Linked DNA regions of Homo sapiens. The protein of the gene in region 1 interacts with the protein of each later gene in a pairwise test. Each region holds a gene or a part of one and is shown on either strand. Other genes may lie near its edges.

Region 1 (7,303 bases):
CCTGATGTTTTCTAGGGAAGTGTCTTTTCTAGGAACTCTGCCACCCCCTCATCCTATCCTCCAGCCGGATGTTTCTTCTGAGTTCAGACATTTTTCTTTTCCATCTTTCTTTCCCCAGGAATAACAAACGAGGACAGCAAGGCTGGGACAGGAAGTACATTGTCCTGGAGGGATCAAAAGTCCTCATTTATGACAATGAAGCCAGAGAAGGTAAATTAATAATTCAGGGGGAAGGTCATTGCACGTGGCTAACCCAGGTCTCCCCAGTGCTGGCGCGAAGGCTTTGTTTTTTGGACTGCCTTGCAAGCCTTCTACGCTTTTCCATTTTTGAAACTTACAAACCAAATGACTTCTCTAAAGGTTATTGGTGCGATACTCACATCTATAGGTCTCCCCCCTGAAGAACCCGCAGGGCGCTGCCCTGAAGATTCCACCTGCTAATACACCTTCCGAGAACTTCTGCCTCAGTCAACTAACCCATAAATCCGCATCGTCATCAGAAATTTGACTGTGCTACTCATCTGACACACTTTATTTTTTTTTATCTTCCCTCTCTGCCTTCTCTGCACACCTCTGTCCCTTCCTTGTTCTCGTGCGCCTCTCTTTACACACGTACCCTGTCTCTCTCTCCCTTGCTGTCTCTCTCGCTCTCTCTTCTCCCCTTGTTCTTGTTCCTGTTCTTTTGTTTTTCTTTCTGCCCTTCCTCTTTGCACCAAGCTGGACAGAGGCCGGTGGAAGAATTTGAGCTGTGCCTTCCCGACGGGGATGTATCTATTCATGGTGCCGTTGGTGCTTCCGAACTCGCAAATACAGCCAAAGCAGGTGAGGAGGAGCCGGAGGAGCCCCGCCCTGGAGGTGGGCCGGGCTTGGCCAATCAGCAGGGACAGAAGGGGTGGTACAGGGAAGATTGGCTCTGCAAAGGAGGCCCATCTTCCTCCGCTCCCCGCCTTGGCGGTAACTGGGATTTGCGTGGTTTGGTGGGCATCTTTGATCTCTCAGGCCCGTCCCTCCCAGTGGGAACGGGGGAAATCCACACCCAATCCTGTGCTCTCTGAAATCTCCTAGATGTCCCATACATACTGAAGATGGAATCTCACCCGCACACCACCTGCTGGCCCGGGAGAACCCTCTACTTGCTAGCTCCCAGCTTCCCTGACAAACAGCGCTGGGTCACCGCCTTAGAATCAGTTGTCGCAGGTGGGAGAGTTTCTAGGGAAAAAGCAGAAGCTGATGCTGTGAGTATGAAAGCGGGCCCTGGAGGTTGTCTTTGTAAAGGGGGCTGACTTGGTAACTGGTGTTAACGACGAGAATCCCATTGGCCATTTTGATTCCCCTCAGGCTCTCTCTCTGAGGGCTGATGGCTCTAGACTGTGTCATGGCCAGGAGTCTGGTGGTGATGAAGGCACAAGCACCAAGGTAGCTTGTGTGGCATCATGATCCATTTAGAATGTGGGAATCAGGGATGCGGTGGCTCATGCCTGTGGTCCCAGTGACCCAGGAGGCCAAGGCAGGAGGATCACTTGAGCCCAGGAGTTTGAAACCAGACTGGGCAAGATAGCAAGATCCCATCTCTTAAAAAAAGAGAAAGAAAGAAAGTTAGCCAGGTGTGGTGACATGCACCTGTAGTTCCAGCTAGTAGGGAGGCTGAGGCCGGCGGATTGCCCAGGAGTTTGAGGCTGCAGTGAGCTACGATTGTGCCACTGTACTCCAGCCTGGGCAACAGAGCGAGGCATGGACTGTAAAAGCAAAGGAAAAAGAATGGGGGAATCGGCATCAGTAGCCTACTCTGGTGGCATTGTAGACCTTGGTTGTGGTGATGCAGCAGCAAATGTACTTATAAGGAAATCCTCTCTCCTGTTTACTCAAATGAGTTTGTCTGGTTTGAAGGCTTGAGTTAGAAGCACTTTGGCCACGAAGCAGCACAATAGGCTGCCGGCAGCTGTGTCCCCTCCAGGAAGGCTTTTCATAAGCATCTCAGTTGTTTTTGCAGTATTTGCTCTTCCGTAGGCAGGTTTGGAGTCCTACTTATCCTTAAGCTGTTAGAAACGTAGGTGTGCTGTGATTGGCATCACCCCACCTAAAATGTTCCAGGATACAAACAGTGCTCATTGCTCATTGACGTTTGCTCCAGCGAAGACCAAACAGCTCTTTTCAGACTCTTCACTCCTAATAAACACTTTATGTGTTAGCAATTGGCAGATTCTTAACCACAAGCCTCCTGAAAAGGGCTTTACTCAGTGGTTAGACCTGTTTGGATGACTTGTTGGTCGTTTCACACGTGAGCTTTTACTGAAATCCTTGTTAATATGTGTACAATAGGCCCGCGACTGTGTTTCTTACGAGCTTCTGCCTGCCTGGGTTCAGGTAAAGAGATGCAGAGGCGTGCTGGCTCGCTGCTAACACGGCGCCTTTGCACTTCTGCTGCAGCCTTATGGGGGAAGGAGTCTTTCATGTGTCTTATTAACCCTGCGCAGGTGAAATCTCCTTAGCTTCAGCTTATTTCTTATTACAGAATAGCTTTCCATGTCTACTACCCTCCCTTATTTCTGCATCCCAGCCAAATTATAACTCAGATGCTAATTAACAGCTGCCCCAGAGATACCAATAGCACTCGCATTTTGCATTTGGAGCTCAGATCAAAATACGGGCTGAGCTAAGAGCATATGTGCGTTTCTGAGCATTTCCAGGAATAACTTGGCCTTAACCTTCTCTTGGTTTCTCTGGATGGTTTGGTCATAAACAGATCAGCCTCACGATGTCTTCTGTTTTTCTTTTCTTTCACCTATGAAAAGAAACTGCTTGGAAACTCCCTGCTGAAACTGGAAGGTGATGACCGTCTAGACATGAACTGCACGCTGCCCTTCAGTGACCAGGTAATGCTTGCATGGGCACGGCCAGCTGGTGTCTGGTTACAGCCACACCCCATCAAGAAAGAAAGGGCTGTGGAGGCCTTGTTGCTCTTACTAGAGATTGTTCTGGTGACGTGACCGTGCTTATGTTCTGCCTTCGGACTTCTGCCCTTGCAGGTGGTGTTGGTGGGCACCGAGGAAGGGCTCTACGCCCTGAATGTCTTGAAAAACTCCCTAACCCATGTCCCAGGAATTGGAGCAGTCTTCCAAATTTATATTATCAAGGACCTGGAGAAGCTACTCATGATAGCAGGTGTGAGGCCAAGGACATGGTGTTTTTTCTTTACTTTCAAGGGAGCCAATATGTTGAAGCCACGTTTCATGCTCGTAAAACACAAAATAGTAGAGAGGAGCCGTTGTAGCTCTTATCTCTGTGTCCCCATAGATGCCCAAGCCTCAGCTAATGGACCCCCTCTGTCCAGATTCAGTTCCCTTCCAGTATCCAGTTTAGCACAGTCTGACATTCCCAAAGAACATCCCACTGTTAGGCCAAGTGAAGAGTGCTAAGCCTCGAAGACTATCTAAAGCCAAACCCTTTGTCCTGATTGCAACGAAACCACCGTGGGCCCTGACCTTCTGAGAGCTTGCTTGCTCTGTTAACTCTGTGATCTCTCTCAAGTCACCATTTGCTAATATTTTGTCATAATTTTTTTCTCTGTCTTCTTAACACACACACACACACACACACACACACACACACACACACACACACACACTCTCTCTCTCTCTCTCTCTCTCTCTTTCCTGAACCATTTGAGAGTTAGTTGCAGGTATGACGCCAAGTTCTTCAGTATATCAACCTAAGGATTGAAGACATTCTGTCACATAACCAGGGTACAGTTTATTTCTCTCTGTCTGTGTTAGTGACATTATTTTTAAAGGGGAAAAGAGTAATATATCGATTCAGTGTTCAAAACAACAACAGTTAGGTCTTGTTTCAGGCATGGCTGGATCCGGGGACTGACATACTATGGACAAGAACTGGCCTTTCTTAATCTCAGCTCTTTTTCCTCCGTCTCTTCCTCTCTTCCTTATTTTATTCTTTAGAGCAGTTTTAGATTCACAGCAAAATTGAAAGGTACAGAGAGTTCCCATATACCCCCGTTCTCATATATGCATAGCCTCCCCCACTACCAACATCCCCCACCAGAGTGATACGTTCGTTAGAGTCAGTGAACCTACATTGACACATTGACAGTGACACATCATTGTCACCCCAAGTCTACAGTTTACATTATAGAGTTCTTTCTTGGTGGTATACATTCTATGGGTTTTGAAAAACATATAATGACATGTATCCACACATAGAGTATCATATAGAATAGTTTCACATACTATAATTTCTGCATTTAGGAAATTTACCCTTACTATAATACAAGTATCCGCTATGCTGCCCATAATTGGATTTTACCTGTGGCTTCTATAATGTCCCAGAATTTGCATTGCATTTAATCATGTCTCTCTAGTCTCCTTTAATCTGAACGGTTCCTCAGCCTTTTGTCTCTCCTGACATCCACATATTTGGATAGTCCAAGTCTGTTTTTTCATAGAATGCCTCCTCATTCCTCCCTCACACATTCGTTCTTTACTTTGCTGGGGAGCATGTTTGAAAGTACAGTTCACATTCTCCAATTTTATGTCTGCAGAATTCCACCCTCCTCAGAATCTTGACTAAAAGGCCAAATGTTATTGTCTTAGATTTAAATCATGGACTTGGGCCGGGCGTGGTGGCTCACGCCTGTAATCTCAGCACTTTGGGAGGCTGAGGCGGGCAGATCACAAGGTCAGGAGTTTGAGACCAGCCTGACCAACATGGCGAAACCCCATCTCTACTAAAAATACAAAAAAAAATTAGCCAGGCGTGGTAGCATGCACCTGTAATCCCAGCTACTCAGGAGGCTGAGGCAGGAGAATTGCTTGAACCCAGGAGGCAGAGGTTTTAGTGAGCCGAGATTGTACCATTGCACTCCAGTGTGGGCAACAGAGCAAGACTCTGTCTCAAAAATTTAAAAAAAAAAAATAAATAAATCATGGACCTAAAATGTGTTTATATGGATTTGTGGAAAACTCAGATCATCTGTGTGGCCTCTTGTGACTTTTACTTGTGACTAGAACTAGAACCACCATCCCGTACCTTTACTTAACGGCTTCACACTGACGAGAGGTTGTTCCTTTTCCTGTTCAGGAGAAGAGCGGGCACTGTGTCTTGTGGACGTGAAGAAAGTGAAACAGTCCCTGGCCCAGTCCCACCTGCCTGCCCAGCCCGACATCTCACCCAACATTTTTGAAGCTGTCAAGGGCTGCCACTTGTTTGGGGCAGGCAAGGTAAGCTCCCCTCAGAGTCCTAGCTGGTGGAATGTTCTGGAAATTGACACTACCTCTCTTCCCACAGAGCTCGTTGATTTGACCTTCAAGATAGTGTCAACTTAAATAACAAACAGAGAGGGGCTCTCTTGAAAGAAAAGAGATTGATTTGGGAACAGGGCTTTGCAATGGGAATACACGTGCCATTGTAAACTATGTGGGTATCTAGGGAGATAAAGGAAGACAGAGGTTTGTAAGTGAGGATTCCATAGTCTTTTTGAAATAATTATCCTTGGCTTCAAAGATTAATAACAAGACTGACGCTTGTCTAAGGTTGGACAGATAGTCACTGGGCGGATGTCCTTGCAGAAGTATTTTTTGTGTAAGATTGCAATGGCCTGGCCGGGCGCGGTGGCTCATGCCTGTAATCCCAGCACTTTGGGAGGCCGAGGCAGGTGGATCACGAGGTCAAGAGATCAAGACCATCCTGGCCAACATGGTGAAACCCTGTCTCTACTAAAAATACAAAAATTAGCTGGGCACGGTGGCGGGCGCCTGTAATCCCAGCTACTCGGGAGGCTGAGGGAGGAAAATGACTTGAACCCAGGAGGCGGAGGTTGCAGTGAGCCGAGATTGCGCCACCGCACTCCAGCCTGGTGACAGGGAAAAAAAAAACAGATTGCAATGGCCTTTGTGGTTTTCGTCGAGTCTCTTTTTTATCAGGCACACAAGTGTGAGAATCCTCTCTTCATGGCCTCCTCCTGCTCTAATGTCAGCGTTTTGTTAACATTGGCAGCTCCATTTTGATTCTGACAACTTTCACAATTGTACATCCTCAAACTAGGTTAAATTTCTGTTGCCTCCTTTAGGCACGTGAAATAATTTGTGTAGCCATGAAATTTGTACAGGTTTTGAATCTAAAATAAATGTCTGAGAGCAAAATGGGAATAAAATTAACAAAACTAGAAGGATGATCCATAATTTAAAAATAAGTGTGTTTGCATGTGCGTGTGTATGTCTGCTGTGTCTGTGAGAGAGAGATGAACCTTAAAAAAAATCTAATGTGGATCTCCATGTCTGAACTAGATGAAAGTATGTTTCATTACTAGAAATTTAAAAATTCGAATTTATGACATTTACATAACAAAGTTCATGAGAACTCAAGTTAATTCATTTGTAGCTTCTGGCATATTGAAAAGTGGCACATAAAATACCTTTGTTTGCTTCTTTAGTCAAAAAGTCAAAAAATAACAGATGCTGGTGAGGTCGTGGAGAAAAAGGAACACTTATACACTGTTGGTGGGAGTATAAATTAGTTCAACCATTGTGGAAGACAGTGTGGGGATCCTCAAAGACCTAAAAATGGAAATACCATTCAACCCAGCAATCCCATTACTGGGTATATACCCAAAGGAATATAAATCATTCTATTATAAAGTCACATGCATGTGTATGTTCATTGCAGCCTACTCATAATAGCAAAGACATGGAATCCACCTAAATGCCCATCAATGGTAGACTGGATAAAGAAAATGTGGTACATATACACCATGGAATATTATGCAGCTCTAAAAAAGAATGAGATCATGTCCTTTGCAGGAACATGGATGGAGCTGTAGGCCATTATCCTAAGCAAACTAATGCAGGAACAGAAAAACAAATACCACATGTTTTCACTTATAAGTGGGAGCTGAATGATGAGAACACATGGACACATAGAGGGGAACACACACACTGGGGCCCGTCAGAGGGTGGAGGGTGGGAGGAGGGAGGGGATCGGGAAAAATAACTAATGGATACTAGGCTTAATACGCAGGTGATGAAATAACCTGTACAACAAACCCCCATGACATGAGTTTATTGATACAACAAACCTGCACATGTGCCTGTGAACTTAAAAGTTAAAGTAGAAAATAATAAAAAAGAGTGTTTGCGGGTATATATACATGTACATGTATAACTTTAATTAAGTCTGAATCAGGTGTTTATAGACCCCCTGAGGCTACTGGCGTTCTGCTGTTGAAAACCATCGCATTTTGACCCTCAGAAGAGAGCACACTGCACATTTGTTCATTCAGCCGCTCAATCAA
Region 2 (3,276 bases), on another chromosome or scaffold:
ATTATGTTGTGCTGTGTTATTTATCCTTCCACGAATTGCTGCAAAAGCTGTGTTCTGGGTCATCCCCACAACTGCTGTGAACAAGGGCATGCCTTGCGAGGTGGCATGGGTTAAGGACCAAGGCTTAGGACCCCACAGGGCAGAGAGGCAAACTAGGCTTATATTAGTATTAAACCTGTGACTTGAGACTGCATCATATTGCTTCATTCTTAAAGACTTGAAGGATTTCCATCTTTTCTACAAGTTAATCTTAGGCAGTATCATAGCTCTTTTTTGTATATGATCAAATCACTTAATCTAATTATGCCCCATTTTTTTCTTGTGATTTGAAAGCATCATGAAAACTTTTATATATGCAGGTTTATCTGTTACTACTATGAAGAATCAAAAAATTCCAAAGCCTTCTAGTTCAGAAAACGTTAGGCCAGATTCTGTAATCACCTATGTTAAAGAACAAAGCTAAACAGCTAAATCAGGAAGTAGATAATAAAAGACAGATCACATTTAGACAAAGACATGGTTACTTTTTTATTTGAAGAAAAAAAAAGTATGTTTTAATAAATACTGCGGAAACATTGACCAAACAAACATACACAGTGACTTCAACAGTTTAAAAAATGCAACAAAAGTTCTGCTTTATAACAGTTATAACTTATTTTCTTTTTACAATATTTAAATACAGAAAGCACTCGCCAGCTATTTTGTAATACTGCCCAAAGCATAATGCTGCATCAATCAAAGCATATTATGTTGGTAAAATGTCTGTATTTTATGGGAAATGACTGGAATCGAATTTTCTTGCAGAGACAAGACAAAGTGCTTGTAAGACATAGAACTGAGTGTTGTAATTACCTTAATCTCTCCTGCCACGATTTAAGGGGAGCACAGCTTCAACACTTCAAAAACGAAGCACTATCATGGGAAAGAAAGCTCGTTTTCAACAAGCGCCAACAATAAACAGGTCAGATCTGGTTTCTTCTCTGAAAGAATCTCTAAAAGGAACTGGTCAAAAATATCTGTAAACTATTTTAAATGCTTATTATTTTACGTAACAACAGAGACCAAGTGCTGAACACAGACCTTGGCTGCATCTGTTCAGTGAGGTTTTAGCAATGACACTCTAGAAATGCCCTAGTGTTATGTCAGGACTGAAAGTTTATCATATAATCTTCCACTAGGGATTCTCTAAAGCTTGGGTAAGTGGCATCTTCTCTCATCAATGTTCATTTAATGAAAAGTGAAATAAACCAACAGATTATCAGATGCTGTCAGTTTTGGAGCTTCAACCCAAAATAATAGTCCTTTTGCTTTGTATTTTTGGTAACTTAATTCCAGACAGCTTTACTCACAAACTGTGCTTTCTGCTACTATTCTTTCCTTCACTCATTACCTTTTCTGGTGAAAACAGTAACTACCTTTTTTCTCTCCTTGGATCATTCTATGACATCAAACCAAGACACCTTTTATTTGACTTTGCATTTTTATCAACGATGGCAAAAAATCACACAACTTCTAAACAGCGCACAAAAATATTACATTGAGCAATTTACCACTTTTTAATGACAATCACAATGAAGAACAGAACCATCAGACTGAATAAAAATCGACATTTTTTTTCCTATTTGATCTATGCGATCTTTGTAGTGCTGGTCTACAAATCTTGCAAGATTGCAAAGGCTTTCCTTAGAACCATCCTACTCAGCTATCTTCAGGAAGGCAAGATTTCAAAGCCTCATAAAGTTTGCCTCTGGATATATCCCATGGGTCCTGATACAATTTCCTTTTTAATGATGAGCTAGAAAGAAATTAGATCACATCCTCTAGAAAACTAAATGCTAAGGTCACAGTGCCAGTTCCCCCTTGAGGACGGTATATTAACGTATACTTTTTGTAAAGGAGATTAAAACATTTAAAAATTAAATCAAAGTGGAGATCCATGAATAGATTATAACAAAAAAAAAAAACCCAAAAATGCAAGCACCATTCAGAGTGTGATTTTTCTTCTTGGAGGTACTCGCATCCCCCCTCATCTTCCTCTAGCTCATTTGTATCTCTCATTTTTTGGCATATTTTTCAAGTCACACTTAAAAACTCTTCCATGTATTCACTTCTCATCACTTGGTCTACATGCCGAACCTAAGGTCAGGATTCCAAAAAGATGAGTATCCTCTCAAACGCCTCCTAAGCCTCTGGTATACATGACTTTGGCTGTGCACTTCATTTAGACTTCACCTTTTTGTTTGCTGTTGTTTTTTACACTAGATTCCTTTGTCTTCATTAAAGATAATGAAAGATTCACATCACAGTGCAGCTCTTCGCTTTGTCCTTTCGTAAGTCCGTAGCAACTGCCGAGAGTTCTGGTCTGCTAGGCATGTGTGAAATCCGCTTTGTGGCTCTCTGTGATTTGTTCCGCTTAACGTTTTTATTTGTCTTATTTACACATGCCAAGGTGGCAACGTGAAAAATGTCTCTGACGCTATTTTCCGACTGTAAAGCTGAGCATTCGATATAAGTAGCTGCTCCAATCTGTTTGGCCATATTTGCCCCCTGAGAAGCAAAAGAAGGGATTTTAACCAGCAATAAGACTTTGGGGGAAAGTTAGCTAGCATCTTCTAATACCACAAAATAATAACACATTGCAAAACGTTTGCTGATATGTTAACTGAATTTTCCAAGTGTCATTGCAAAAAAAAAAAGTTGTTAAAATGTAAACTGCCTTATTTATTACTTCATAACTATTTGCAGTCCAGAGCCCATCCCTAAGATGCCCAACTCTCATGGCTCATTAGAGGTGTTAGAGCTCTGAATAAATGCTAAAGGCTGATCTTAACAAAGGAAGACCCTGGTTATCAAACACTTAACATGAGGTGATTCAAAGAAGTGTAGAGTGGAGCTAACGAAGTGATTCATCTTCACTATCAACTGCAAGCAAGAGTTAACTGGTTATTCAGGTTTTCCAGGGTCACAGCAAGCATGGAATGGCGCAGAGAAGCTTACTAGTGAAGTAAGTTAGCTGAAGGTCATGAACATAAACTCTGCATTTTCCACACAGCTCTGGCCGTGGCGATGTGGCCTTGAGAACCTGTTCCAGCGCCTCATGGTGCACTTCATTTCTCTTTTCTTGAGGGTAAATGGCATTCAAGACTAGTGACTAGGTTGTACCAAAAACAGGGGCAATGAATGAAATTTAAAATCGATTTTGAAATGTATGTGATTGTGTCTTACTTAGGGCCGAAATGCGTTGAGGAAAGGAATAATACTATTGTAACATCTGTT

Evidence for each region.
Region 2: the proteins of CIT (region 1) and RND3 interact in a two-hybrid assay, tested with the Homo sapiens proteins (one study listed by BioGRID).

Annotation. Positions count from the first base shown.
Region 1 is NC_000012.12:119,706,110-119,713,412, reverse strand, and holds part of CIT (citron Rho-interacting kinase), read left to right. Parts: intron 1-118; coding exon 119-210; intron 211-717; coding exon 718-822; intron 823-1,065; coding exon 1,066-1,235; intron 1,236-2,319; coding exon of another isoform or gene 2,320-2,364; intron 2,365-2,792; coding exon 2,793-2,873; intron 2,874-3,026; coding exon 3,027-3,162; intron 3,163-5,094; coding exon 5,095-5,234; intron 5,235-7,303. UniProt on the Homo sapiens protein: Plays a role in cytokinesis. Required for KIF14 localization to the central spindle and midbody. Putative RHO/RAC effector that binds to the GTP-bound forms of RHO and RAC1. It probably binds p21 with a tighter specificity in vivo.
Region 2 is NC_000002.12:150,467,692-150,470,967, forward strand, and holds the end of RND3 (rho-related GTP-binding protein RhoE precursor), read right to left. Parts: intron 2,548-3,276; coding exon 2,296-2,547; 3' UTR 504-2,295; downstream 1-503. UniProt on the Homo sapiens protein: Binds GTP but lacks intrinsic GTPase activity and is resistant to Rho-specific GTPase-activating proteins.